Homo sapiens: one gene and its partners. The protein of the gene in region 1 purifies or fractionates together with the protein of each later gene. This does not show direct contact. Each region holds a gene or a part of one and is shown in the gene's direction. Other genes may lie near its edges.

Region 1 (3,500 bases):
CTGGATCCCCAGTGAGTTAACTGAATTATCAGACTTCTAACTAGTTTAAGTCCCAGGCTGAAGCTAACAACATTACTTTTTGCGCTCTCTGTAGATATTCCTAGTAAAATGACCCAGAGAAAACTGGGTTTGGGGTGCCTTCCCGGGGTAACAAAAAAGAACATTCTTTGGTAAATGAGATATCTCCACCTAGCAAACAATCCCCAGTGAGGGCTGCTCGGCTTTTTGCCCATCACGACCTCCCACCTTTCATGAAGATTGGATGCTGAGATGATGATCAAGGCTGGAGAACCATGCTTCATGTGGTGGAGTACCTGTAGGTGGATTCATACCAAATCCACTATCAGTGCTTGGCTGTTTCAAAATAAACACCATTTTACACTCTTTAATTAACTTCACCCAGAGAGCTCAGAAGGTTTTGATGCTTTTTATACATTTTTTTTGTATGTTAAGACAGGGTCTCCCTGTATCACCCAGGCTGGAGTGGAGTGCAGTAGTGCAGTCATAGCTCACTGTAACCTTGAACTCCTGGGCTCAAGCAATCCTCCCACCTCAGCCTCCTGAGTAACTAGGACTACAGGCATGTACCACCACACTCAGTTAATATTTTAATATTTTGTGGAGATGGGGTCTCGCTGTGTGTCCAGGCTGGTCACTGACTCCTGGCCTCAAGCAATCCTTCCGCCCCAGCCTCCCATGTAGCTGAGATTACAGGCATGAGCGACCACACCCCACTGTTTTTTTAAATGCTATTCCACTGTTACGGATTACACAGAAATTCCTGATACACTCTTACTACCCCCACCCCGTTTTTGTCTTTCAGGTATAGGGCTCAAGGAATAAGCGCAAATAAATTTGTGGACTCCACGTTCTATCTTCTTTTGGACTTGATCACCTTTTTTGACGAGTATCATAGTGGTCATATTGATAGAGCTTTTGATGTAAGTTTCAGGAAAGGTGTTTGAAGTGCAGGTTAATGTACACCCTCGAAAATTCAAAACACTTCATGGAATTTACTTAAAACAAAGGAGCTGTTGCCAGTATGTTTGTTGTATAAAGAAAGACAAGTACAATCCTGGGACTTAAAAGGAGTTTCCTGTGTGGCTTTTTTTTTTTTTTTTTTTTTTTTTTTGCCTATTCCTTTCCCCTTTAATCTGAAAACAGAGAAGTTTCTCAAAGTAATTTGCAATCTCAGAATTTTAAAAATTGTGTCAGGAAATGATGATAAGAATTAAGTTAGCTAGTTAGAATCAAAGCCTTTGTGTGTACAAGGAGGAATGGCGTTTTCTATGAAGAAGCCCTTTGGAGTATGTGAGGTGCTGACTTTACATGTAGAGAGATGAAATGACTGTGATGGTTGTGTTACATGGGGCCGGTGGTTGTTTTAAACAGATCATTGAGCGCTTGAAGCTGGTGCCCCTGAATCAGGAAAGTGTGGAAGAGAGAGTGGCTGCCTTCAGAAATTTCAGTGATGAAGTAAGTTCCTTCTTCCTGAGTTGTGGAATTCCTTTTTCCCCACTTCCACCAAAAGCTTTTTCTTTTCCTGTACCTAACAGCTTTAAGAATTCTAGTTACAGTAACTATCCAGACTGAGTTTTCCAGAGTGGTTCCCTTTCAGATACCTTGGCCTGGCTTTTCTGTGAGTGCATACATCCCCATCAGATTATTGTCTGAATTCCTAATTGAGAAAATACAGTCACTTCAGTGATTGACATGTTCTTGGGAGAAACAGGTTTCTGGTTGATCTGTGAAGTCTGGTTTAATTCTTCTATTATCCGCTTGTGCTAGAGGGTATTTTAGTGCTTAACTCTGATCATCTTTAAGTAGTTCCATTGGGTACGTGAAACACATCATGATTCACTGCCACCTTTGCCCTCCCTTATCTGTTTTGGGATTTTTTTGTTTTTGAAACGGAGGAGTCTCACTCTGTCACCCAGGCTGGAGTGCAGTGGTGTGATCTTGGCTCACTGCAAGCTCTACCTCCCGGGTTCACACCATTCTCCTGCCTCAGCCTCACGAGTAGCTGGGACTACAGGTGCCCGCCAACACGCCCAGCTAATTTTTTGTATATTTAGTAGAGATGGGGTTTCACCGTGTTAGCCAGGATGGTCTCGATCTTCTGACCTCGTGATCTGCCCGCCTCGGCCTCCCAAAATGCTGGGATTACAGGCGTGAGCCACCGTGCCCAGCCAATCCATTTTGTCTAAAGACGCAAGTGCAGTGACCGCGGAGTAAGCTATCACCCCATAAGCCCCAGAGCCACTGTCTGTTGGGTTTCTAGCATATTGCCAGCATCTAGCCTAGGGTGCTCAGCTGGGCTGCATACTGGCATCTCTAGAAAAGTTTCTAAAAACCCTCATGCCTACACCCCAGAGATTCTGTTTTCCCTGATTGCTGCAGCCCAGACCTCCCCCAGTCATTCCAGTGTGTGGCCCAGGTAAATTCTTCTCTAGAACTATAAACACTCAACTCAGCTGTCGACACTATAGACTCTAGAACCAGCTGCCTGGCTCTGGGATGTCACTAGTGGTCTTTCAGTTTACAATTCTTCCTCATTGAGCAGATGCCTTTTATAAAATGTCTCCAGCCAGGTGCGGTGGCTCACACCTATAATCCCAACATTTTGGGAGGCTGAGGCGGACTGATCACCTGAGGTCAGGAGTTCGAGACCAGCCTGGCCAACATGGTAAAATCCCATCTCTACTAAAAAATACAAAAATTAGCCGGGCGTGGTGACGCATACCTGTAGTCCCAGCTATTCCAGAGGCTGAGGCACGAGAATCGCTTGAACCCGGGAAGCAAAGGTTGCAGTGAGCCGAGATTGCGCCACTTCACTCCAGCCTGGGCGATAGAGGGAGACTTTGTCTCAAAAAAAAAAAAAAAAAGTTTCTATTTTAGAGAAAGAAGTAAGGCCAGTTCTGCACATGAAGAGGGATGTTGACTGCTGTGGTACACACAGTTCAGAAGGTCTTGCCCCTTGCTGACCTTCCCTTTATACCTGCTGTGGCTTCTACCCTTAGCCACTTGCTCCTTTGTTATTTCTGGCCTTTCCTTGAATGCATCCTTCATTGCATCAGGGATTAAAGTGGTACACGAGGGCCTGGCCTTATAGACACTCCCAAGGACTCTGGTAGGGTCATGCAGATCTAGTGGAAACAGCCCGGTGAGTTTGAGAGAGTGAGGAGTGGTAGGGACTGTGGAGAAGTAGCGTGTGCACCTGTACCTCCTGACATTCAAGTTCAAATTATTTAATGGCAGCCACTCTGCTGGCCAGTCTAAGCCTAATGCTAACCAGATGTCAGCATGCTTTTGGCTCACTGCCCCTGACTAAGGGAAAAACAGCATAAAGGAGCAGGAACAGTAACCACCTGACCTGAGCAGCATTGCTTGGGTTTTTTTCTCACACTTGATGTTTCAGTGCCATCAGCTCCTTTTGGGTGACTGTGTGGCTCTCCACCTGGCAATGGTGAGGAGTGGTGCAACCAGGCCTGCCTGGAGCA
Region 2 (3,500 bases), on another chromosome or scaffold:
GAATGACAGTTCCCATCTGAGGTCTCAGTTTCCAGTGTCTTCACTGAAGTGGGAAGGAAGACTGAGAGAGATACACGCTGTGCGTGCCAAGTGATTTCCTGTGACATTGACATTGGGCCTCATTGAGAGAGACTCGGTAGTTCTGTTCATTCAACAGTTTCTAAGCACTTAATTTGTTAGCACTGGGCTAGGCAAACAAAGATAGCTGGGGCTTATGTGCAAGTTGGAGAGATCTTCAGTGTAACGTGTAACTTTTGAGATTACAGTCAGCAGCACGCTACAGTTAGGGATTCCTGAGTGACTTAGTCACATGGGCTCTAGACTTTAGTGTGGAGCTGCATTAAAGGTTTCCAAGCCACCACTTTTGAGGTTATGGTACTGATAGGATGTCCCAAGCAACTTCAGCCCAGGCCTGAGAAGGCCGCGGACCTGTCATGTCTTTGCTCTTGGTTCCATTGCATTTGCTGCTTTGTAATTTAACTATGACTGTGTTTTTCCAGGCAGCCAGCTCCAATTCGAGGATTTTGGATTGTACCTGACATTCTGGGACCCACGATGATCTGCATCACCAGTACCTATGAATGCCTCATATGGCCGTTATTGTACGTCCCATTTTATATTCTCCACACAGCTCTTGTTAATTCTGCAATATCTAAGTTGGGAAAATGCACTCAGTAACCAACTTGAAGCTATACATGTGTGGTTTATACTTTGGCTTCTGACTTGAGGGTTGGAAGGATGGATATTTCTGTTCCTGCCATCATCTCTATAAGGTTTCATTGTAGGTATAGTTTCTGGCATCCCCTGCACCTAGCTGAGAGTCAGGAGCTTTTCTTCAGAGTGTGGAGAAAAAATACTAAAATTGAATACCAAATTCCATTATCGATATGAGTAATAATTATCAAGCTGTGACCATACGCCAAGCTCAGAAGTAAGCCACGTACCCGCACTGCCTCCTGGAATCATCAGGGCAGCCCTGTAAGGAAGGCACTGTCATTTCCATTTTATAAAAGTGGAAACGGGGATCGAGAGGTTAGTAAATGCTGAAGTCACAGGTAACAAATAGAGCTGGGATACAGATGCAGGTCTCATTGACTCAGAAGTCCATACTCATACTCTTTAATTTCTCCATCTCTGCCAGCCTGAGGGACACTGTAGACTATGTAAACTGGAATAAAGCTGAACTCAGGCTGGGTGCAGTGGTGGTTCATGCCTGTAATCCCAATGCTTTGGGAGGCCCAGAGTTCGAGATCAGCCTGGGCAAAACAGTGAGACCCCCATCTCTACAAAAAACAAAAAAATTAGCCAGGCATGGTGGTACACATCTGTAGTCCTAGCTGCTCAGGTGAGAGGATTGCTTAAGCCCAGGAGTTTTAGGCTGCAGTGAACCATGATCATGCCACTGCACTACAGCCTGGGTAACAGAGCAAGACCCTGTGTCTTTTAAAAAAAAAAACAAAAAAGCTGAACTCTTAGTCTTTGCTCCTTTAAGGAACTCAGATAATTAAGCTGTAATCACTATGTTCCTTTTCCAACAGCCCTGGAAGATCATTCTGAGTTACATAAATGTAGGAATATGAGTACCAAAAACAAAAGTCACTGGAGCTTCAAACACTAGACAACACCCCCACCCCTTGTCCGTTCAAAGCTTGCACCTCTGGATGCTGACATAAATTCCTAATACTGGCAGTAGTTTACTGTCCTTAGAGGATCTTCCATAGTCTTTGAAGCTTGATTAAGTTGTACTATCTGGATGTAAAAATAAATATAAATTTTGTGTTATTTACACTGAAGGCACTAAAAGCTAGCAAGACCAAACAAAAATAATAAAATCACTGGAGAAAAAATTACCTGTAAGTTACCTCAGCATACTTTTTAAACACCCACAGTACATTTAGTAAAATAAAACCTAGTCACACTAGCTTACTTCAGAATAAATATGAATCCCAAAGGGGAAAAATAAACATTAATTGTCTGGATATTTTTTTTTTTTTTTTTTGAGACGGAGTTTGCTGTGTTGCCCAAGCTGGAGGGCAGTGGCACGATCTCAGCTCACTGCAACCTCTGCCTCCCGGGTTCAAGTGATTCTCCTGCCTCAGCCTCCCTAGTAGCTGGGATTACAGGCGCACACCACATGCCCAGCTAATTTTTATATTTTTAGTAGAGATGAGGTTTTGCCATGTTGGCCAGGCTGGTCCTGAACTCCTGACCTCAGGTGATCCACCCACCTCGGCCTCCCAAAGTGCTGGGATTACAGGCATGAGCCACCGTGCCAGGCCAATTATCTGGATACTTTCAGATCATATTTCTGCCAACTCCCTGAAATACAAGTTGTCTATAAAGTTATGCTATTTCATGAACTTTCACTTTTTTTTTTTTTTTTTTTTGAGACAGAGTCTTGCTCTGTCACCCAGGCTGGAGTGCAGTGGTGTGATCTCAGCTCACTGCAACCTCCGCCTCCTGGGTTCAGGCGATTCTCATGCCTCAGCCACCCAAGTAGCTGGGATTACAGATGTGTGCCACCACACCCAGCTGATTTTTATATTTTTAGTAGAGACAGTTTTACCACGTTGGCCAGGCTTGTCTTGAACGCCTGACCTCAAGTGATCCACCTGCCTCGGCCTCCCAAAGTGCTGGGATTACAGGCGTGAGCCACCACGCCCAACCAAACATTCACGTTAGAATTGTTGCCTTCAGAGTAAGTCACTTGCCATGCTGCCGAAGTCTGTGAGATCTTTTAAGCTCTTTTTGAAGTTTGAGTATTTGCACTTGACTGAATAGTTTTTAGAAATGAAATTATATAGAACCAATATGGTATATACAGCAGTTTCTTGGCTTAATATTGGTTTTGATCAACTCTAAACCTAACAAATAAGTAATTTATGTTTGTGGCTCCGGCTTATAAACTGGCTTTCAAGTCCTTTGCCAAGAATCCATGCTAGGTGTTTGTGCTGCCTTGATCTTTTAGAAAAGAACTGGAAATGGCAGTCAGAAATGCTTTCACAAATCAGGGGCATTGGAATAATAAGGGTGTAGCTTCCCAAAGTGACCTTTTCAAGGTGGAAAACATGCATTCTTGCACTTTTACAAAAGTTACACTTTATTTTATATTCTGAAAGTTCTGGATTAATGTGGTTTCTGCTTTCCTGTAATACAGTAAATCACTCCATGGTAGAATTCAATTTACTTACTTATTTTGCAGAAGTACAGTCCATCCAGCGTCTCCTCCCCTGCTTTGTACTCGAGAAGATGTTGAAGTGGCAGAGTCTCCCCTCCGTGTTCTGGCTGAAACCCCAGATTCCTTTGAAAAGCATATTAGAAGCATTTTGCAACGTAGTGTTGCCAATCCAGCATTTTTGAAGTATGCAACCTTGGGCATAGCGGTTTTATGAATGGGTTCTCTTCTGTCTTCAGAATTACTGTGCATCCTTTCTGTCCTCATCTGTTTCATATACTTTTTACTGTGATAAATTTGGAAGAAACTGGATATATTTGATCAG
Region 3 (3,943 bases), on another chromosome or scaffold:
CTGGCCAGGTCATCTCGTTCTCTGGCTCAGTGGGAACACTCGTGCCCAGAGACCTCTCGTGGTTCTCTGCAGCCTGCACACAGGGCCTGCTTCCCTGGCTTGACCGCACAGACAAGGGGACTGTTACCAAGGCCTCCCACTGAGGCCACCCCCCCTCCAGGCCATGCCTGCGGGGCCACCACAGCCTCAGCATCATTGCAGGCCCCAGGCCTCTGCACCTGGTCTTGTTTTACTGGGGGCACTGTCCCCACTCACGTCCACCTGGGACCCTCGGCTCCTGTCCACTGCAGCTCCCCTCCCGGACACCTTCCCAGATGCCCCCGGAAGCTCCTGTCCAGGCCACAGCATCCCTCAGCCTCTGTCACTGGTCCTAGGAAGACCCTTTGGGAGCTCTCACTCAGGGCCACACTCAGGACCCCCGTTGTGGGGCTGGCCGCCTTCCTTCTAAAGCACCTGGAGGAAGGAAGGAGGGGGTCAATGCGAGCCTCAATCCCCAGGCGAGTGTGCCCCTTTTAAAGATGAGGGAACCGAGGCTCAGAGAAGGAAAGGACTTGCCTGGCGTCACACAGCTAGCCTAAGATGGTGAGGTCAGGAGCTCCCTGGCAACACCCAGGCTGCCGTACCGTCTCCTGCATCAGACTGAGCCTCCATCGGGCTCCTCCCACAGCCCCAGGCGGGCCCCTGAGTAGGGGCTCTCAGCTTGTGTGGAGGTCCCCCAGGAACACCACCCCGATCCAGCCTCCATGGAGGCTCTTGCCGGCCACTGGGAGGGGCCGGTGCACCCTGGGCAGCCCCTGCCAGGGCCCTGAGACCCGAGCCTCCCCGCCGAGGGCACCTGTCTCGGCTTTGCCCCATTCGAGCAGGGCCCTCGCCGAGGCAGGACAGGGCCACATTCGGAAGTGAGAGTTCTCTGAGTCCCGCACAGAGCGAGTCTCTGTCCCCAGCCCCCAAGGCAGCTGCCCTGGTGGGTGAGTCAGGCCAGGCCCGGAGACTTCCCGAGAGCGAGGGAGGGACAGCAGCGCCTCCATCACAGGGAAGTGTCCCTGCGGGAGGCCCTGGCCCTGATTGGGCGCCGGGGCGGAGCGGCCTTTGCTCTTTGCGTGGTCGCGGGGGTATAACAGCGGCGCGCGTGGCTCGCAGACCGGGGAGACGGGCGGGCGCACAGCCGGCGCGGAGGCCCCACAGCCCCGCCGGGACCCGAGGCCAAGCGAGGGGCTGCCAGTGTCCCGGGACCCACCGCGTCCGCCCCAGCCCCGGGTCCCCGCGCCCACCCCATGGCGACGGACGCGGCGCTACGCCGGCTTCTGAGGCTGCACCGCACGGAGATCGCGGTGGCCGTGGACAGCGCCTTCCCACTGCTGCACGCGCTGGCTGACCACGACGTGGTCCCCGAGGACAAGTTTCAGGTGGGCTCCCCGCCCGCCCCCCGCTGCCCCCAGGCCCTGTGAGCCAGGGATAGTCCCCGGGGAAGTTCCAGGAGGACCCCGCCCCTCCAGATCCCCAAGCCCCTCCAGCCTTCCCCAACTCCCTCCCCACAAGGAGCCAGGGGCGTCCCTGATGACAAGTTAGAAGTTGGTCCCCTTCCCCCAGCCGTCCCCACACCTCACCCCCAAGCCAAGGGAATGGCCTCCAGGTTCCCCCAGCCCCACCCTCAACACCCCTACACCACCACCTGACTCCACCACAAGCCGAGGAGATGGGCGTGGAGCTGTCCAGGTCGCCAGCGCCTCTGCCTGGGAGCTCCACCCTCTAGTCATGATGGAGATGGGCAGGCCGCAGGGTGTGGGGGACCATGGCAGGGACCCTCATGCCACCCCACTGCAGGAGACGCTTCATCTGAAGGAAAAGGAGGGCTGCCCCCAGGCCTTCCACGCCCTCCTGTCCTGGCTGCTGACCCAGGACTCCACAGCCATCCTGGACTTCTGGAGGGTGCTGTTCAAGGACTACAACCTGGAGCGCTATGGCCGGCTGCAGCCCATCCTGGACAGCTTCCCCAAAGGTGGGTCCTGGTGGACTCAGCCATGCTGGGGGCCTGGGGCAGCTGCTGTCACCTGCTCAGCCCAGCTGGACTGGAACCGGAGTGGTGTTTGAGGAGCCCGTGGGTGATGTTCCAGGACCGTCTTGGATCCTAAGAGGCAAAGGGGCCAGGCCTCACCTGTCTGGCCAAGGTGTCCAGTTCTGGGGCCCACCCTACCCCTGGAGAAAACCCTGAGGTTGGGACCCTGCTCCTGCCCCTGAGCTGCAGATGTGGACCTCAGCCAGCCCCGGAAGGGGAGGAAGCCCCCGGCCGTCCCCAAGGCTTTGGTACCGCCACCCAGACTCCCCACCAAGAGGAAGGCCTCAGAAGAGGCTCGAGCTGCCGCGCCAGCAGCCCTGACTCCAAGGGGCACCGCCAGCCCAGGTACCCTCCCTGCAGGGGAAGCCAGCCAGGGTCTCCAGTCTTCCCGGGCTTCCCCGGGAGCCCACGCCCCCTCCCCACCCGGGCTCCCACCCACTGGGTGTGGGGCCAGCCTGCCTGGGGCTGTGGGGGTCTCCTCTGGGTACTAGACCCACACACTGGACCAGCCTCTCAGCTCCCTCCTGCCTGAAGGCTGAGCTCCCCGGAGCTGGTGAAGTAGGCGGGCGGGTCTCATTTCCCTTTTACTGATGAGAAACCAGAGCCCGGCAAAGGGACTACCCAGCACTGGACCGCCCCCTCCACGCCCTCCCACCGCGGGCCCCTGCCCACCGGCACTCACCCCCACTGAGAGGGGAGGCCAGGCTGCCCCCAGCTCCCCCATTCAGGCTCTCAACTGAAGGCCAAGCCCCCCAAGAAGCCGGAGAGCAGCGCAGAGCAGCAGCGCCTTCCACTCGGGAACGGTGAGCGGGGCCCAGTGGGAGCGCCTCCCTTCTCCCTGGCCAGGGGCAAGGGGTCAGGGGTCAGAGCAGGGCCTGCCCTCTGAGACCCTGTCCTAGGGGCTGGGGACGTGCTGGCCTGGTGTGTCATTCCAAGGGCCTAAGCTGCACCACCAGACCCAGGAAGGGGACACCTTGGGTCTAAGCATGATCTTGCCAGTCGCCCCTGCCCCCACTGCACCCTGGTTCTGGGACCCCCTTCTCAGGCACCTTCTCTGCCCGTCCACTCCCTATCCTTCAGGACCAGCCTAGACATAGCTTCCTCCAGAAAATCATCCCTGGCCCCCAGCTGCATGCAGGCTGAACCCTTCCTGTCCCCTTCTCCTTCCTTCCCAGGGCACTGGACTCCAGAGACCCCCTATCTCCCTGAGGGCAGAGCCTAGGAACTCTGTGTCCCTCCCGGCACAATACAGGGCCCATGTCATGGGGGGGTGGGTCTGGTCATTGGTCATGCCTTCCTATCCATTGTGCCAGCTCTGCTGACACTGCCACCCCCCAGCACACGCACACTTGGGTGCACACACGAACACACACATTCTCATGTCTCTGCACTTACCTGTGGGCTGTCTGCACATGGCAGGGCTGGGTCCCCTCCTTGGCCTGCCCTGGCTGGAAGGAAAGGGCTCTGCAGCCCAGTGCTGCCTGCTTCTGGCATAGAGTATGTGCTTGGGAACAGTCTTCCCCACGGGTGACCCCAATGGGTGTTCCCTTTCCCAGGGATTCAGACCATGTCAGCTTCAGTCCAGAGAGCTGTGGCCATGTCCTCCGGGGACGTCCCGGGAGCCCGAGGGGCCGTGGAGGGGATCCTCATCCAGCAGGTGTTTGAGTCAGGTAGACGCTGTGGCGGGGAGATGGGGCTGATGGGGAGACCCAGGCTCCAAGATGGAAGGAGGACCACGCCCCTTTGCATCCTGGTGGTCCCACAGCAGACCGGACTGTTGCTCAGGTAGCCAGAGTTTCTGCCTGTGGTTCTGCTGACTTTGGAGGAGGAGGGTGAGCACTGAAGTCTCCCTGTCGGGGGACCTTCTGCAAGGCCAGCGGTCCAGGC
Region 4 (3,500 bases), on another chromosome or scaffold:
GGCCTTAGAAGGAAATGATGAACATGTTATTGGACAGTGGAGAAAAGGTGATCCTTGTTATAAAGTTGCAGAGAACTTGACTGAATTGTGTTCTATCATTGGGTAAGCAATGAACTTGGATATTTATCTGAGTAGATTTACAAACAACGTGTAGAAGGTATAGCCTTGTTTCTTCTTGCTTATATACTAATGTGTGAGAGGAAAGATATAAATTGAGGAATGAATTGTTTAGCAAAAAGGAGCCAGCACTTGATAATTTGAAAATTTTTTAGTCTGTCCAAATAGTGTATTGTGGTACAGGACCAAGGCTGTGACTGGACAGCTATTCTCTAAAGAGACTTGGTATATAACTTGTGGATCGAATCAGCCATCTCAGCACTTCCCAGAATAGACATGCAATTTTTCAGGAAAGATCTGTGGAGGACTCTCATTTGGTGGCTTCGACCCCCTGAATTTCATGAAAGACTGACAAAGTTTTTGAGAATGTTGTGACAGCAGAAACACTGCCAGGCTGGCCTGAATGGGACAGAGACAGAATGGAATTAAAGAAGAATGATGCTGAGGGTAGAGCTGCAAATGCTGGGTCCTGGGTGTATTAGACTTCCTGGGGCCACGATGGCAGGGCTATTTCCCCAGTGGACTCAGAGTACAAACCATTATCCACAAAAGCTTATTCTTAGGGCTTAAAGTCTAATGCTTTTCGCTAGGTTTTGGACTAACTTGGGACCCCTGACCCTTTTTCCCCCCTTCTATTTTCTTCCTTTTGATATGGAGATGTGTAATCTATAAGTGTCCCACCATTGTTTTTTGGAATCAGCTCCACAGATGGAGAAGAATTTTGCTCTAGAGTGGACCATACCCCCAGTCTCATTCATAACTGATCTAGATGATGAGATTTGATCCCTTTTGAGTTGATGATTTTTAGGTATTGTTTGGATTTAGACTTGATACTGGAATGGGTTAAGACTCTGGGAGGTTGGGATTAGGTGAATGTATTTTGCACATTGGAAGGACATAAATTTTAGGGAACCAGAAGGTACAGACTACTACGGGTTGAATTTTATCCCTCCAAAAATGTGTTGAGTCCTAGCCCTTAATACCTGTAAATATGAACTTATTTGGAAATAGGATCTTTGCAGATGTAATCAAGTTATAATGGAGTTATTCTGTATTACAATGGGCCCTAATCCACTATGACTGATGTCCTTATAAGAATAAGGACATCACACATGGGACAGGAGGAAACACCGTGTGATGATGGAGATAGAATTGAAGTTAGCAGCTATAAGCCAAGTTGTTGACCACCACCAAAAGCTAGGAAGAGGCAAGGAATGATTCTTCTCAGAGTCTGAGAGGGAGTGTGGTCTGTTATTGTGTTGATTTTGGACTTTTATCCTCCAGAAGTATGGGAGAATAGATTTCTGTTGTTTTAAGACATCCCAGTTTGTTGTGATTGGTAGAGCAGCCCTGGTAGACTAATACATTATTTCAGCTCTCTCTTGCTTACTATTCGCATGTAATATCTTAATCCATTCTTTTACTTTGAACCTGTTTGTGTCTTTGGATCTAAAGCAAACTTGTCCACTATGGCCTGCAGTCTGAATGCGGCTCAGAACGGCTTTGAATGTGTCCCAACACAAAATCGTAAACTTTCTTAACACATTATGAGTTCTTTTTTAAATTTTTTTATCTTATCAGCTATCATTAGTGTATTTTATGTGTGGCCCAAGACATGTCATCTCCTTCCAGTGTGGCCCAGGGAAGCCAAAAGATTGGACAACCAGGTCTAACGTGAGTTTCTTGTAGACAGATTGTAGATTGGTTGTATTTTTTGTTAATCCATTCTGCTAATATGTACCTTTTAATTCCACACTATATGTATGTGTAAACTACCGATAAGAATGGCCTGCCATTTTGCTTTGTGTTTTCTACCTGTCTTAATATCTTTTATTTTGATCTTTATTTTCTTTGTATTTCCTTGTGTTGCAGATATATAGCAGTGTACCATCTTCTCTTTTCATTTTCTGTATATTTTTATTTTCTTAGGGGTTACCTGGGGATTGCATTTAGTACTTTAAACTTTATCTAGTTTAATGCCAGTTTAGCTTCAGTAGTAAACATATCTCTGCTCTGTACTATTCTGTGCCTCACCATTTATGTTATTGTTGCAAAGTGTATGTTTTGATGTCAAATGCCCATTAACATAAATTTACAGTTGCTATTTTGTACATTTGTCTTTCAAATCATGTAGGGAGAAAAAGGAGTTAGAAATCAAAAGTACAATATCATATTTTTGCCTCTGTAAAATATGCCAGTGTTTTAATTTATGGCTTTAAGTGCTCTCTAGTGTCCTTTAATTTCATCTTAGAGGATTCCTGATAGCATTTTTTATAGGGCAGATCTACTAGTGATAATCTGTTTTTGATTTTCTGGTAATGTCTTAATTTCATCTTCGTTTTTAAAGAATAGTTTCGGCAGCTATAGAATTCTTGCTTGACGATTTTTTTTTTTCCTTTCATCACTTTGTTATCACACTGCCTTCTGACTTCCATGGTTTCTGATGAGCGGCTGTTAATCTTGTTGAGTATTCCTTGTTGCTTATGAGTCACTTCTTGCTGTTTTTATGGTTCTTTGTATTTGTCTTTCTACCGATTGATAATAATGTGTCTAGGTGGGGATCTCTTTCATTTATCCTACTAGGAGTTAGGTAAAGTTCTTGTTTGTACAGACTATATTCCCCAATAGTTTTTCAAATATTCTTTCTGTTCATTTTCTCCTCTCCTTCTGCAAATCTTATTATGCATCTGTTGGCATGCTTAATGGTTGTCTAAACGATCTCTTAGGCTTTATTTTCCTTTATTCTTTTTTTCTTTATATTCTTCATACTGGATCATCTCTGTTGGCCTAGCTTAAAGTTCACTGATTCTTGTTTTTCAAGTCTGCGGTGAATTTTTAATTTCAGTTATTATACTTCTCAGCTCTAGAATTTTTTTCTCTTAGTTCCTTTTTTGTGGGGGGGGTGTGGTTTCACTCTTGTCGCCTATGCTGGAGTGCAATGGTGTTATCTCGGCTCACTGCACCCTCCACCTCCTGGGTTCAAGTGATTCTCCTACCTCAGCCTCCCAAGTAGCTGAGAATACAGGGATGCGCTGCTACAAGCAGCCCAGCTAATTTTTGTATTTTTAGTAGAGACGGGGTTTTGCCATGTTGGCCAGGCTGGTCTCGAACTCCTGACCTCAGGTGATCCGCCCACCTTGGCCCTCCAGAGTGCTGGGATTACAGGTGTGAGCCACTGTACCCGGCCTCTCTTGGTTCCTTTTTATAGTTATCTTTTTATTGGTATTCTGTATTTGTCGAGACATATTTCTTCTGATTTCCTTTAGTACTTTGTCAGTGATTTTCTTTAGCTCTGATTGTCTTTAGTTCTTTAAACATTGTTTTTTACAACTTTTATTTTAGATTCGGGGGTACATGTGCAGGTTTGTTACTGGGGCATATTG
Region 5 (3,582 bases), on another chromosome or scaffold:
CTGCTTACAAACCTGTCCCCTGTCCTCCAACCCAAAACGCCTTTTTTTCTGTCTTAATATCCAGAAAATCTAAATGCATCCTAAAATCAATGTGAACCTTTAACAAGATAGTTTTACTTATTATCACATAAGACATAAGATGTTTTCATTTTCTGGATGTCACACTTCCAGAATTTCATATTTTTCCCCTCTTTTCTTTCCCCTTTTCAGAGCCCTCCCATAGGAAGGGAAGGGCTTGAATTTACCCTTAATCTGCACCTTTAGCCAAGGCAGTGCATGGAAGATGAATGGCTCGTGGGACAGAATCTAATGCCAGGGAGCAGGAGTGTTTGAAAGAATTCATAGTGGGGAAGGTAAAAGTTAATGGAAGTACATGATTTTCAAAACTGGTAACAGTTAAAGGCACTCACCCTCCGCCTCTCTCTCTCTCTCTCTCTCTGGTGTGCTATCATGTCTTGGACTCCATCCACACTATAGTTTCAAAGTTCCACTGACGGGGGAAAGTTGGTGCTTTGGTCCTCCGAAGATGTCACCTTTCGACCTTGCCCGATCTTGTTTCACCAGACTCTAGCCCATGTCATGGTTTTAAAATACATAAACTTCTGACAGCTTCCCATATTTATAAGTTACTTATAAGTGCTGCACGTATTAGAATTTTTTTTTTTCAGACCAGTAAAGTTAGAGAAAAGACGCTGTAAAGGAAAAGCAAGTGAGAGTATGTGTAGGACACTGACAGTGTGTGGGCACCAGTTCTGAAGAGGAGGGGAGCTGCTGGAGCCCTAGCCTGTTGGGGAAAAGCTGGCACACTCTTGGCTCGCCCTCTTTGAGTGGAGCTGATCCAACACCTCATGCCTGCCTTGGCCGGACACTGAGAGGAGGGGCACACGTGCTTCCAGAGACACTCAGGAGTCAGACCCCAATGCTCAGAGTCACAATGTGTTCATGGCCTCCTGTAACAGGACTCTGGGGATCCCCTCTGTGGCCCAGCCCACCCCACCCTCTGCTCTTCTATGCTGTGCCCAGGGCAGCTGCCCTCTTCTGCCTGTGCCCCATCCCATCCTGAAAACCCAGGACCAAGGCAGGGGCAGGCAGCCAGTTCTTCCACCTTGCCTCAGAGTCATTTAAAACCTTTACTGCATTTGATACCAGAAAAGCCTCCAGAGACAAACCAAATGCAAAGGCCTTTCCTTTATAACTCTAAAGAACAGGCATCGAAAGTTTATTTTTGTAGGAGCTATATAAATACTCACCTTTCTGGAGTCGTCCAGTGCTGGGAGCTTTGGGGAGTTTGGTTCTCAGTTATCACCTGGTATGGTCCCAGTTTCTCATCTGTCCTTTCCTCATCCACCCTGCACATGTGTATGTGAACGGCTTCGTGGCCGGTGTGGTGGTTTCTCATTTCATAAGATAGTTGAAGGGCCATGCCTTGTCTGGATGTTATTTAATAGGCACTACTGCGGTGTCCTCAGATGGTACTGAGGGGGCCTTCTGGTCCTTCAAAGGAAAATAACACAGGCATGAGTTCATTTGGGAGTGTGAACTTTCAGAACACCTAATAAGAGAGTGGTGTCAGAGTAAAAACGGCCCCAGGTCTGGAGCATAGAAGTGTATCTCTGTGAAGAGAGAGCCGGTGTGTTGACATGTGGTTCTTCTCACACCCCTCTACTCCTCGAGGGCTTTGAATCCTTGGGCTGATTTTTGTGCCAGAAATTGCTGTTCCCGATGGCCAAAAGGGGAACCTGAACTGGATTTCAGAACTGCCCAGTGATTTGAAAATTTAGATTTTACTTGGGCCTTTCAGGAGTCTTTAGATAGGGATGCTGAGGTCATATTTAGTTCAATGAACAGCCCTTGTTTAAGTTTTGCCAGTGTCCAGCCAGCTGTGGCCCTGGCCATCTGTGCAGGCAGGTTCCTCAATTCCTGGTTGGCCCTGCAGTCGGTCAACACAGTCCCTCCAGGTCGGCTGCAGAGGCAGCTGCCCAGCCTGCAGTCTATGCACGGGCCTTAAGAAATGAGCTGCCTGTAGCCTCACGGCATATGCTTTTATCAGGGAAAACCCTTCGAGCTTCTTCTGATTCTCACCTGCTTGCTTTCTGGCTGTCTTAGTCAGTGTGTTTACAGGCAACTAAAGCCTGTTCCTAATTTATCAAAAAATTATAACCAAAATTCACCATAGCCTAAGAGAGTAAACCCCACCTCCAAAGTGATGCCAAGGCCAAAACCTCATCAAGGAACCAGACACAGGTCAAAAGTGGTGAGCAAGCCATGGTCTCTGCTCCTGGGGAACTCACACGCTGACCCCCGAGGAGCCTTGGTTTCCTCCCTGGCAGATAGTCCCCAGAATCTTCTCTCCCAGCTTTGAGGTTCTGGGCTCTGGAAAGGCCTCTGGGATGCTGGCCTTAAGATCTCAGCACAGACTATCAGCATGTTCCATTCTCAGATTCCTGGAGGAAAGGTACCCTCTGTTGACCAAGGGGCTGGCTGCTTCTGAGACTTACCAACCCAAGAAATTTGGAGACATTCCCCTCAGGCTAAAAGGCAGCGGTCCCCAGAGTTCAGAAAGCAAAAGATCTTGACAACTGTGCCAGTAGTGGCTCTGGTCCTATCTCTCCACAGTGCTGGCCTCTGCTGGGGAAGGCATCTTTCCCAAAGGTATCCCCAAGTACCATGTTGAAAATGTCCTCAGTCTGTTGCTCCATCTTTCTGAGCCTCTGCTTGGTATGTCATGTTTATGGTCACTACGGATGAGTGTGTGCAGAGTTTGGGTTGATTCTTTTAAATGCTACAAACAAGAGCTATTTCTTTTCAATAAAAAAGGTTTGGATTCGGCCTCTTCCTCTGAGCCCACCTCCCAGCCCTCCAGGGAGCATCAGTGTACCTGAGTCACTTTGTCTGCATCTCTTCATCCCACAAAACACGAGGCTGGGTCTCATTCAGCGGCCTCTCACCAACCTTCAAGATCCAGAAGAAAACAGGAACGTTCAGCTCTGCCCTGTGTCGTATCTAATCACATACATTAATTTATCTAACCACATAAGTTATTTTTTTTTATTTGCCAGAAATAAACCTTTAAAGGAACAAACCTGTGTGGAGGACTCATGGGAATGGGAGGAAGATGGAAAAGAAGGGGGAAGAGACTGTCTTTATCATGAGAGTAAAATTCCACCTTGAGGACTAGCTCCATAGTTACCAGAGGTATGTCAGGAGAGAGCACGTGTGTGTGAGTGAGTGACAGACGCAGAGCCACAGGGTGCCACAGAATTTCATGTAGCTTTGCTGACAAGAGTTAACTTGGAGAAACTCCAGGAGCAGGCGTCCTGGACAAGTAGCTAGGGGGCTTTTTGGCTTTACATACCGCCTCTGTCAGAAGACCGCACAGCTGAATACAGAAGTGCATATGGGATCATCTCCAATCTTGACCCAGGTCCTGGCACAGGAAGGTTAGGTTCACTTCTGACAGCTGAGGCCACAACTGCAACCCCCGGAGACTGCCAGGCCCTCCTTCCTGTTTGGACTGGGAATTGCTGGGGGCCAGAAGTCCTTGTTTGTGGCGGGGCAGCCAGACTTAGAAAAGTGTGAGGC
Region 6 (3,500 bases), about 15 Mb from region 1:
ACTCCATCCCATCCGGGTGGTGTGAGCGAAGAGTTTTGGGAACGCAGTCGGCAGAGAGAGCGGGAGCGGCGGGAACATGGTGTCTATGCCTCGTCCAAAGAAGAAAAGGATTGGAAGAAGGAGAAATCGCGGGATCGAGACTATGACCGCAAGAGGGACAGAGGTAAACTGTCCAGCACAGTTCCTATTGTCCATTAGCATTCGAATAAATGTGTCAGCCTTTTTCTTGTTGCAGGAGTTTTTGCAACACCCATTTGTTAGGGAGTCCTATTTGCATGATGTCCGCCTGAGTGGTTTTGACCCTGCTGGGATTGGGAATACTAGTTTAAGAAAAGAGCTGTTGCCTGTAACATAGCTGCTCTCCTTGAGTGTGTGGTCTTCGTTTTATTATGAAAATTGATGATAAAGGAGATAATGGGTAAATATGTATAAGAGACCAGCATTTCTAATAGTATTGGTGATAGAGAAAGGACAGTGCTATGGAACAAAGCTAGACAAAAAAATCCAATGCTGTCCTTGCTCAGTATTAAGTTTTATAGCTGATAGAATTGTAACTATTAAAAAAAATGATTCACTGTAAACTCGCACTAGTATTTTTTGAATTCTTGCTGGAAAATAACTGTTACTGTGGGTTTGAAATTTTCTAGGCAGTAACTATTTTTCCCCCTTGGGAGAATGGGGATAGGTGAGTTTCAGGAGTCCACGGATCACATTCGAGCAGTGCAGGTTGCACCTGTGAGTGAGTGGGCAGCCTGTCCTTTCTCTAGGGTGAAGATGTGTATACCTTAGGATGGGATGCATGTTTTTAAGCTTCGTGTGACTCTTCATAGATGAGCGGGATAGAAGTAGGCACAGCAGCAGATCAGAGCGAGATGGAGGGTCAGAGCGTAGCAGCAGAAGAAATGAACCCGAGAGCCCACGACATCGACCTAAAGGTAGACTCACTGTTTTGGTGGCTTGTGAGGATTCAAGTGTATAAAAGGCAGAGTGAGTGACTCTCGTCTTCAGTGAGATTGCTGAGGCATTGAGTCAGAATTCCCGATTCTACCATGAACATCTTGGGATAGTTGGTTCTGAGTCAGGTGGGCACAGCTCTGCACTTGGGGTGGATATGGTTCCTGTAAGGTGAGAGGCTGGTTTGCTGAATGGCCAGTTTTCCAAATGGTAGGAAAGAATAGGGAGCTGGAGGTAGAAGAAGTGTTTATTAAAAAGAACTACTTATATCCAAGAAGGGTGTGTTTGTAGAGATAAAGTAAATATCCCTTAAAATGTTGTCATAAACACAGAATGCAAACTGGACCATTGGCTAGGTGCAGTGGCTCATACCTGTAATCCCAGTACTTTGGGAGGCTGAGGCAGGCAGATTACTTGAGGTCAGGAGTTCGAGACCAGCCTGGCCAACATGGTGAAACCCCATCCCTACTAAAAATACAAAAATTAGCCTGGGGTGGTGGTGGGTACCTATAATCCCAGCTATTCGGTAGGCTGAGGCAGGAGAATCACTTGTACCCGGGAGGCAGAGGTTGCAGTGAGCCAAGATCACACCACTGTACTCCAGCCTGGGCGACAGAGCAAGACTTTGTCTCAAAAAAAGAAAAAAAGGAAAAATACATCCTGGACCATTAAAAATTGAGATATCTTTAAAAACTGTCAAAACCGATCTTAACCGTTATAGATACATGCAAGGTTTAGAAATAGTAAAAGGAGTAAATTTGGGGAATTGACTTTTGGCAACTGGTTCTAGACCATGTCATGGTTAAGTGAGATGTTTCCTGTGGATGTGTCTTTTGTGGCCCAGATGCAGCCACCCCTTCAAGGTCTACCTGGGAGGAAGAGGACAGTGGCTATGGCTCCTCAAGGCGCTCACAGTGGGAATCGCCCTCCCCGACGCCTTCCTATCGGGATTCTGAGCGGAGCCATCGGCTGTCCACTCGAGATCGAGACAGGTGATGTTCTGGGCAGAGCAGCCCAGTTTCGCTGGGTGGGCGGTAAGGAGCCTCGGCAGGGAGAGCAGATGGTGGCCAGGAGGACGTGGCTTAGCTCAGTGACAGTTTTGTGATGCTGGTGCTGCTGTTCCCAGGTCTGTGAGGGGCAAGTACTCGGATGACACGCCTCTGCCAACTCCCTCCTACAAATATAACGAGTGGGCCGATGACAGAAGACACTTGGGGTCCACCCCGCGTCTGTCCAGGGGCCGAGGTGAGGCCTGTGGGGCAGCAGGCAGAAGAGCAGGCTTGCTTGCCCTAGCGAGGATGAGCAGGGGCTGCCCTTCTGGAGCTGCATGGCCCTGCAGATCTGTCTGGGGCCGCTGGGGACAGGCCAGGGCATGGACTGACCTGCTTCCTGTGCTCCTCCAGGAAGACGTGAGGAGGGCGAAGAAGGAATTTCATTTGACACGGAGGAGGAGCGGCAGCAGTGGGAAGATGACCAGAGGGTAAAGTTTTATACCTCTGAGGGGCTGATCGGGGCTGGTGGCCGTCTGTAGATGGGTGACCCTCTAGCAGGACTGGGCTTTGATGAGGGTACACCTGAGCCCTGTTCAGACCCAATGCCCTGGAGTCTCTTTGCAGAGGCATAGACGGCACGGTGAACCCTGTCACTCACTGCAGTAGGCTGACCTAACTGTTCTGTTATGTGTTGGTGCCACCATGTGGTAAATCTAAGAAGTGCTATCGTGATGGGCTGCCCTCCAGTCCTGTGTAGTTGCCCACTGTGGTTCTCCTCCAGATGGCATGTGTCTGCAGGGAGGCCTCTCCTGCACCCCTCACAAGGGTAGCTCCACTGCAGTAGTGACTTCCTACCAAGCGTCCCTTCTTCTGTTGGCCATGTCTCGTGCATAAACTTGATCTGTCCCTCACTCCCTTGCTTTGCCTCCTGCCCTGCAGCAAGCCGATCGGGATTGGTACATGATGGACGAGGGCTATGACGAGTTCCACAACCCGCTGGCCTACTCCTCCGAGGACTACGTGAGGAGGCGGGAGCAGCACCTGCATAAACAGAAGCAGAAGCGCATTTCAGCTCAGCGGAGACAGATCAATGAGGTGAGGCTGCCTGCAGAAGTTGGAGCAGATTCAGAGCTGGAGGTAGAGCACGTGGGGAAGCAGCAGGTTATCCCCAAGTGAGGGCAGCACAGCTTGTCCCCTGATTGCCGAGAAGCCCAGATCCTCTGGAGGTGGAAGAGGAGTGGGTGATGAGCCTTTTAGTAGCTTAAGGAAAGCCCCGGCTCGTACTTCTCTCTTTTGCAGTACTTCCTTGAGGGGAAGTACTGTTGATGGGAACAGGTGCATTGGGACCTGCCTCTGTGGTCTGTGTTCTTTGTGTCTCTGATGTGGGCTAGGGACACTTACCATTTGTGTGTCCCTCTAGAGGTTCTGATTTAGATGAAAGGTGCTGCTGCTTGGAACAAACTCCTGCAGGTGATTTGGGATCAGCACCTCTTCTGTCTTTGGAGCTGTGGGTAGAGGCCTGTGACATCTTTGCAGCTACCAGTGGCCTTCTGT
Region 7 (3,500 bases), on another chromosome or scaffold:
TGTGGCCAAAACTTTTTTTTTTTTTGAGACAGTCTCGCTCTGTGGCCCAGGCTGGAGTGCAGTGGCGCGATCCTGGTTCACTACAACCTCTGCCTCCTGGGTTCAAGTGATTCTCCTGCCTCACGCTCCCAAGTAACTGGGATTACAGGCATGCACCACCATGCCTGGCTCATTTTTATGTGTTTAGTAGGGACAGGTTTTGCCATGTTGGTCAGGCTGGTCTTGAACTCCTGGCTTCAGGTGATCCAGCCACCTCCACCTCTCAAAGTGCTGGGATTGCAGGCATGAGCCACTGTGCCCAGCCACTTCTTATTTTTATCCTGAGTTTAGGGATGTGTTAAATTGTATTAATTCTCCATTATCTCTGTGTGTGTGTGTGTGTGTGTGTGTGTGTGTGTGTGTCCTTTTACAAATTATAAATGGCCGCTCTTTGAGGAAGTCGCGGTGGTAGGTGCTGCGGCTCTGTGATCCGCAGGCTCCTGCTCCTTACTCACTACTGTTCGCTCTCGCCGAGGAACAAGTCGGTCAGGAAGCCGTGCAGCAGCTATGGCTTTGAAGGTTACCGGAAAAACACGCGTGGAGCTGGAGGTGGCAGTTCACCGAAATTGAATCACTCTAACGAGCCGCAACATAAAATCCCTGGAAAAGGTGTGTGCTGACTTCATCAGAGGAGCAGAGGCAAAGAATCTCCAAGTGAAAGGACCAGTTCGAATACCTACCAAGACTTTGAGAATCACTACAGAAAAAGTCCTTGTGGTGAAGGTTCTAAGACGTGGGATCCTTTCCAGATGAGAATCCACAAGCGACTCATTGACTTGCACAGTCCTTCTGAGATTGTTAAGCAGATTGCTTCCATCAGTTTGAGCCGGGAGTTGAGGTGAAAGTCACCATTGCAGATGCTTAAGTCAACTATTTTAATAAATTGATTACCAGTTGTTAAAAAAAAATTATAAATGGCAGACTTGATCCCATTCATCATTAGACTACTTTCATGTTTTGCTCAGAATTAAGTAAGTTTTAATATTCATTTAAAAATACTTATCAAATAAATTTGGTTTCTCTCAAAGTAAGTTGTGTAAGATATTCTGATTTTAGCAAATTATTTCATAATTTGTGCCTTTCTGTTAATAAACAGAAGAAGCAGGGATGAGGTGGTGGGGAATTTGCAGTGTTTATTTAATCTTACCAGTTTAGAGGCTGGACAAAGAGCAAGAATTAAAAGTTATGCTTAGAATGTTTGTCCAAAATTAAGGTGATCTTTTCAGTGTAAGAACATGAGTTGTGAGGGCACAGCAAGCAGAAACTACACCAGACTGATTTTTTTTTTTTTTTTTTTTTGAGATGGAGCTCTGTCACCCAGGCTAGAGTGTAGTAGTGCGATCCCAGCTCACTGCAACCTCTGCCTCCTGGGTTCAAGTGATTCTCCTGCTTCAGCCTCCTGAGTAGCTGGGACTACAGGTGCCCGCCACCACGCCCAGCTAATTTTTTTGCATTCTTAGTAGAGATGGGGTTTCGCCATGTTGGCCAGGCTGGTCTCAAAAACTCCTGACCTCAAGTGATCTGCCTGCCCCGGCCTCCCAAAGTGCTGGGATTACAGGCATGAGCCACCACATCCAGCCCAAACTGATTTTAAGAAAGAAGAGCATGAGGGCAAAACTTGACAGCAGACAGACCAGGCTTCAGCCTCCTGTAGTTGAACAAGGATTGCTTGAAGAGCAACATGAAGTATATAATGTATATATGGCTCATGTAAGCAAGAGTTCCTCCAGAAAGCTTTCGTAGTGGAGGTTGAGTCTGTATTTAATTTTAGACTCTAAGCTTTATTCTCCAGTATTTGTACATGTTTATCTTAATCATTTTCTGAATAGTAGGATTATACAGTTTTTTCCCTTTGGTTTTTCTTATATTTTTTCACATTTCATTTTCTATGTTAATTGTGCATTTCTTTGATAATCACCAAAAAACTATTTAAAACTAGATTTCTAAAGAGGCTTTTTAAAAGGAAAATTGAATTTCTGCTTGTATTTATGTACTCTTATTTTTATAGACAGGGTCTCACTCTGTCACCCAGGCTGGAGTGCAGTGGCTTGTTCTCTGCTGACTGCAACCTCTACCTCCCAGACTCAGGCGATCCTCCCATTTCAGCCTCTCAAGTTGCTGGGGACTACAGGCATGTGCCACCACACCCAGCTAAAAATTTTTTGTATTTTTAGTAGAGACAGAGTTTCATTATGTTGCCCAGGCTGGTCTCAAACTCCTGGGCTCAAGCAATCCACCTGACTCAGCCTCCCCAAGTGCTGGGATTACAGGCGTGAGCCACCAAGCTCAGCCTATTTATTTATTCTTAATCTTGAATTACCTCTTAAATGAATGTTACTATCATCTACCCAAGTCACTCAGATCAGAAACCAAGGAGGCATCCTAGACCTTAGCCTCTGACACTTTCTTTGATACCAAGTTATATTGAGTCTGTTTATCCCCTTTTATATTCAACCTTGCTTTTCTGTTCTCATTGCTAGTTTTAATCACGCCAAACTGCTTTTACATCTCTGAAGATGTGAAAGGTTGTTTTACATTTATGCTTTTTCTTCGTCCTCCTGCCTCTGAGTCGAATATACCATCCCCATCTTCCTTCCCTTGCCTGCTCACTGTACCCGTCATTAGTCTGCTCTTTAAGCATCAAATGCTCTGTGGAAAATTTCCTTCTTTCTGTCTCTCAAGTTAAATTAACCACTTCAATCTCCTTACCCTGCACGTACACTTTGTAGATTTTATGCCACAGTACTCATAACACTTTTTGCAGTTACTGCCTAGCCTACAAGATGGTAAACTCTTTGAGGACAGGGTTTCTTACTTTATTTTATCACCAGCAATTGGTGGGTAATAGCAAATATGTAGTAAATGTTTGTGGAATTAATAGTTTTCCTCAACTTACTATAGGACCATGTTCTGCTCTAAAACTTTGAAGTTAAAGCCTAGTCTGTGATAGCTTAGTACAGTGGTGGGCAATCTACAGCCTGTCCTCTCTATCTTTGTAAATAAGGTTTTACTGGTATACAGCCATGTTCATTTGTTTACATTCTGTTGTCTGTAGCTGCTTTCACACAACTGTGGCAGAGTTGAGTGATGGTCACAGAGAACATATAACTTCAAAACCTAAAGTATTGGGCTGGGTATGGTGGCTCATACTGCAATCCAAGCACTTTCGGAGGATTGTCTGAGTCCCAGAGGTTGAGGCTGATCATGCCACTGCACTCCAGCCTGGGTGAAACAGCAAGACCCTGTCTCAGAAAAAAACAAAACCCAAAACCTGAAGAACTTATTATCTGTCTAGCCCTTTACAGAAAAAAATTTACTGATCTTTATTCCAGTGTATGAAGATGGAAGTCTTATCAGATGATGATCTCTGTTTTTGAAAATACATTTAGAACCAGTATAATACAAATTTCCAGCCTCGCCAACATGGTGAAACCTGGTCTCTATTAAAAATACAAATTAGT

What was found.
Region 2: the proteins of NUP93 (region 1) and NUP88 fractionate together in Homo sapiens (co-fractionation; one large-scale study listed by BioGRID). This does not show direct contact.
Region 3: the proteins of NUP93 (region 1) and AIRE purify together in Homo sapiens (affinity purification with western blotting; one study listed by BioGRID and IntAct). This does not show direct contact.
Region 4: the proteins of NUP93 (region 1) and ZFP91 fractionate together in Homo sapiens (co-fractionation; one large-scale study listed by BioGRID). This does not show direct contact.
Region 5: the proteins of NUP93 (region 1) and TLN2 fractionate together in Homo sapiens (co-fractionation; one large-scale study listed by BioGRID). This does not show direct contact.
Region 6: the proteins of NUP93 (region 1) and DHX38 fractionate together in Homo sapiens (co-fractionation; one large-scale study listed by BioGRID). This does not show direct contact.
Region 7: the proteins of NUP93 (region 1) and RSF1 fractionate together in Homo sapiens (co-fractionation; one large-scale study listed by BioGRID). This does not show direct contact.

What each region holds. Positions count from the first base shown.
Region 1 is NC_000016.10:56,838,129-56,841,628, forward strand, and holds part of NUP93 (nuclear pore complex protein Nup93), read left to right. Parts: intron 1-823; coding exon 824-941; intron 942-1,392; coding exon 1,393-1,476; intron 1,477-3,500. UniProt on the Homo sapiens protein: Plays a role in the nuclear pore complex (NPC) assembly and/or maintenance. May anchor nucleoporins, but not NUP153 and TPR, to the NPC. During renal development, regulates podocyte migration and proliferation through SMAD4 signaling.
Region 2 is NC_000017.11:5,388,663-5,392,162, reverse strand, and holds part of NUP88 (nuclear pore complex protein Nup88), read left to right. Parts: intron 1-500; coding exon 501-602; intron 603-3,202; coding exon 3,203-3,361; intron 3,362-3,500. UniProt on the Homo sapiens protein: Component of nuclear pore complex.
Region 3 is NC_000021.9:44,284,733-44,288,675, forward strand, and holds the start of AIRE (autoimmune regulator), read left to right. Parts: upstream 1-1,143; 5' UTR 1,144-1,274; coding exon 1,275-1,406; intron 1,407-1,824; coding exon 1,825-1,999; intron 2,000-2,245; coding exon 2,246-2,401; intron 2,402-2,784; coding exon 2,785-2,859; intron 2,860-3,612; coding exon 3,613-3,726; intron 3,727-3,943. UniProt on the Homo sapiens protein: Transcription factor playing an essential role to promote self-tolerance in the thymus by regulating the expression of a wide array of self-antigens that have the commonality of being tissue-restricted in their expression pattern in the periphery, called tissue restricted antigens (TRA).
Region 4 is NC_000011.10:58,603,063-58,606,562, forward strand, and holds part of ZFP91 (E3 ubiquitin-protein ligase ZFP91), read left to right. Parts: intron 1-3,500. UniProt on the Homo sapiens protein: Atypical E3 ubiquitin-protein ligase that mediates 'Lys-63'-linked ubiquitination of MAP3K14/NIK, leading to stabilize and activate MAP3K14/NIK. It thereby acts as an activator of the non-canonical NF-kappa-B2/NFKB2 pathway.
Region 5 is NC_000015.10:62,841,550-62,845,131, forward strand, and holds the end of TLN2 (talin-2), read left to right. Parts: 3' UTR 1-3,082; downstream 3,083-3,582. UniProt on the Homo sapiens protein: As a major component of focal adhesion plaques that links integrin to the actin cytoskeleton, may play an important role in cell adhesion. Recruits PIP5K1C to focal adhesion plaques and strongly activates its kinase activity.
Region 6 is NC_000016.10:72,096,847-72,100,346, forward strand, and holds part of DHX38 (pre-mRNA-splicing factor ATP-dependent RNA helicase PRP16), read left to right. Parts: coding exon 1-163; intron 164-830; coding exon 831-935; intron 936-1,798; coding exon 1,799-1,946; intron 1,947-2,080; coding exon 2,081-2,199; intron 2,200-2,357; coding exon 2,358-2,434; intron 2,435-2,885; coding exon 2,886-3,041; intron 3,042-3,500. UniProt on the Homo sapiens protein: Probable ATP-binding RNA helicase. Involved in pre-mRNA splicing as component of the spliceosome.
Region 7 is NC_000011.10:77,810,723-77,814,222, reverse strand, and holds part of RSF1 (remodeling and spacing factor 1), read left to right. Parts: intron 1-3,500. UniProt on the Homo sapiens protein: Regulatory subunit of the ATP-dependent RSF-1 and RSF-5 ISWI chromatin-remodeling complexes, which form ordered nucleosome arrays on chromatin and facilitate access to DNA during DNA-templated processes such as DNA replication, transcription, and repair.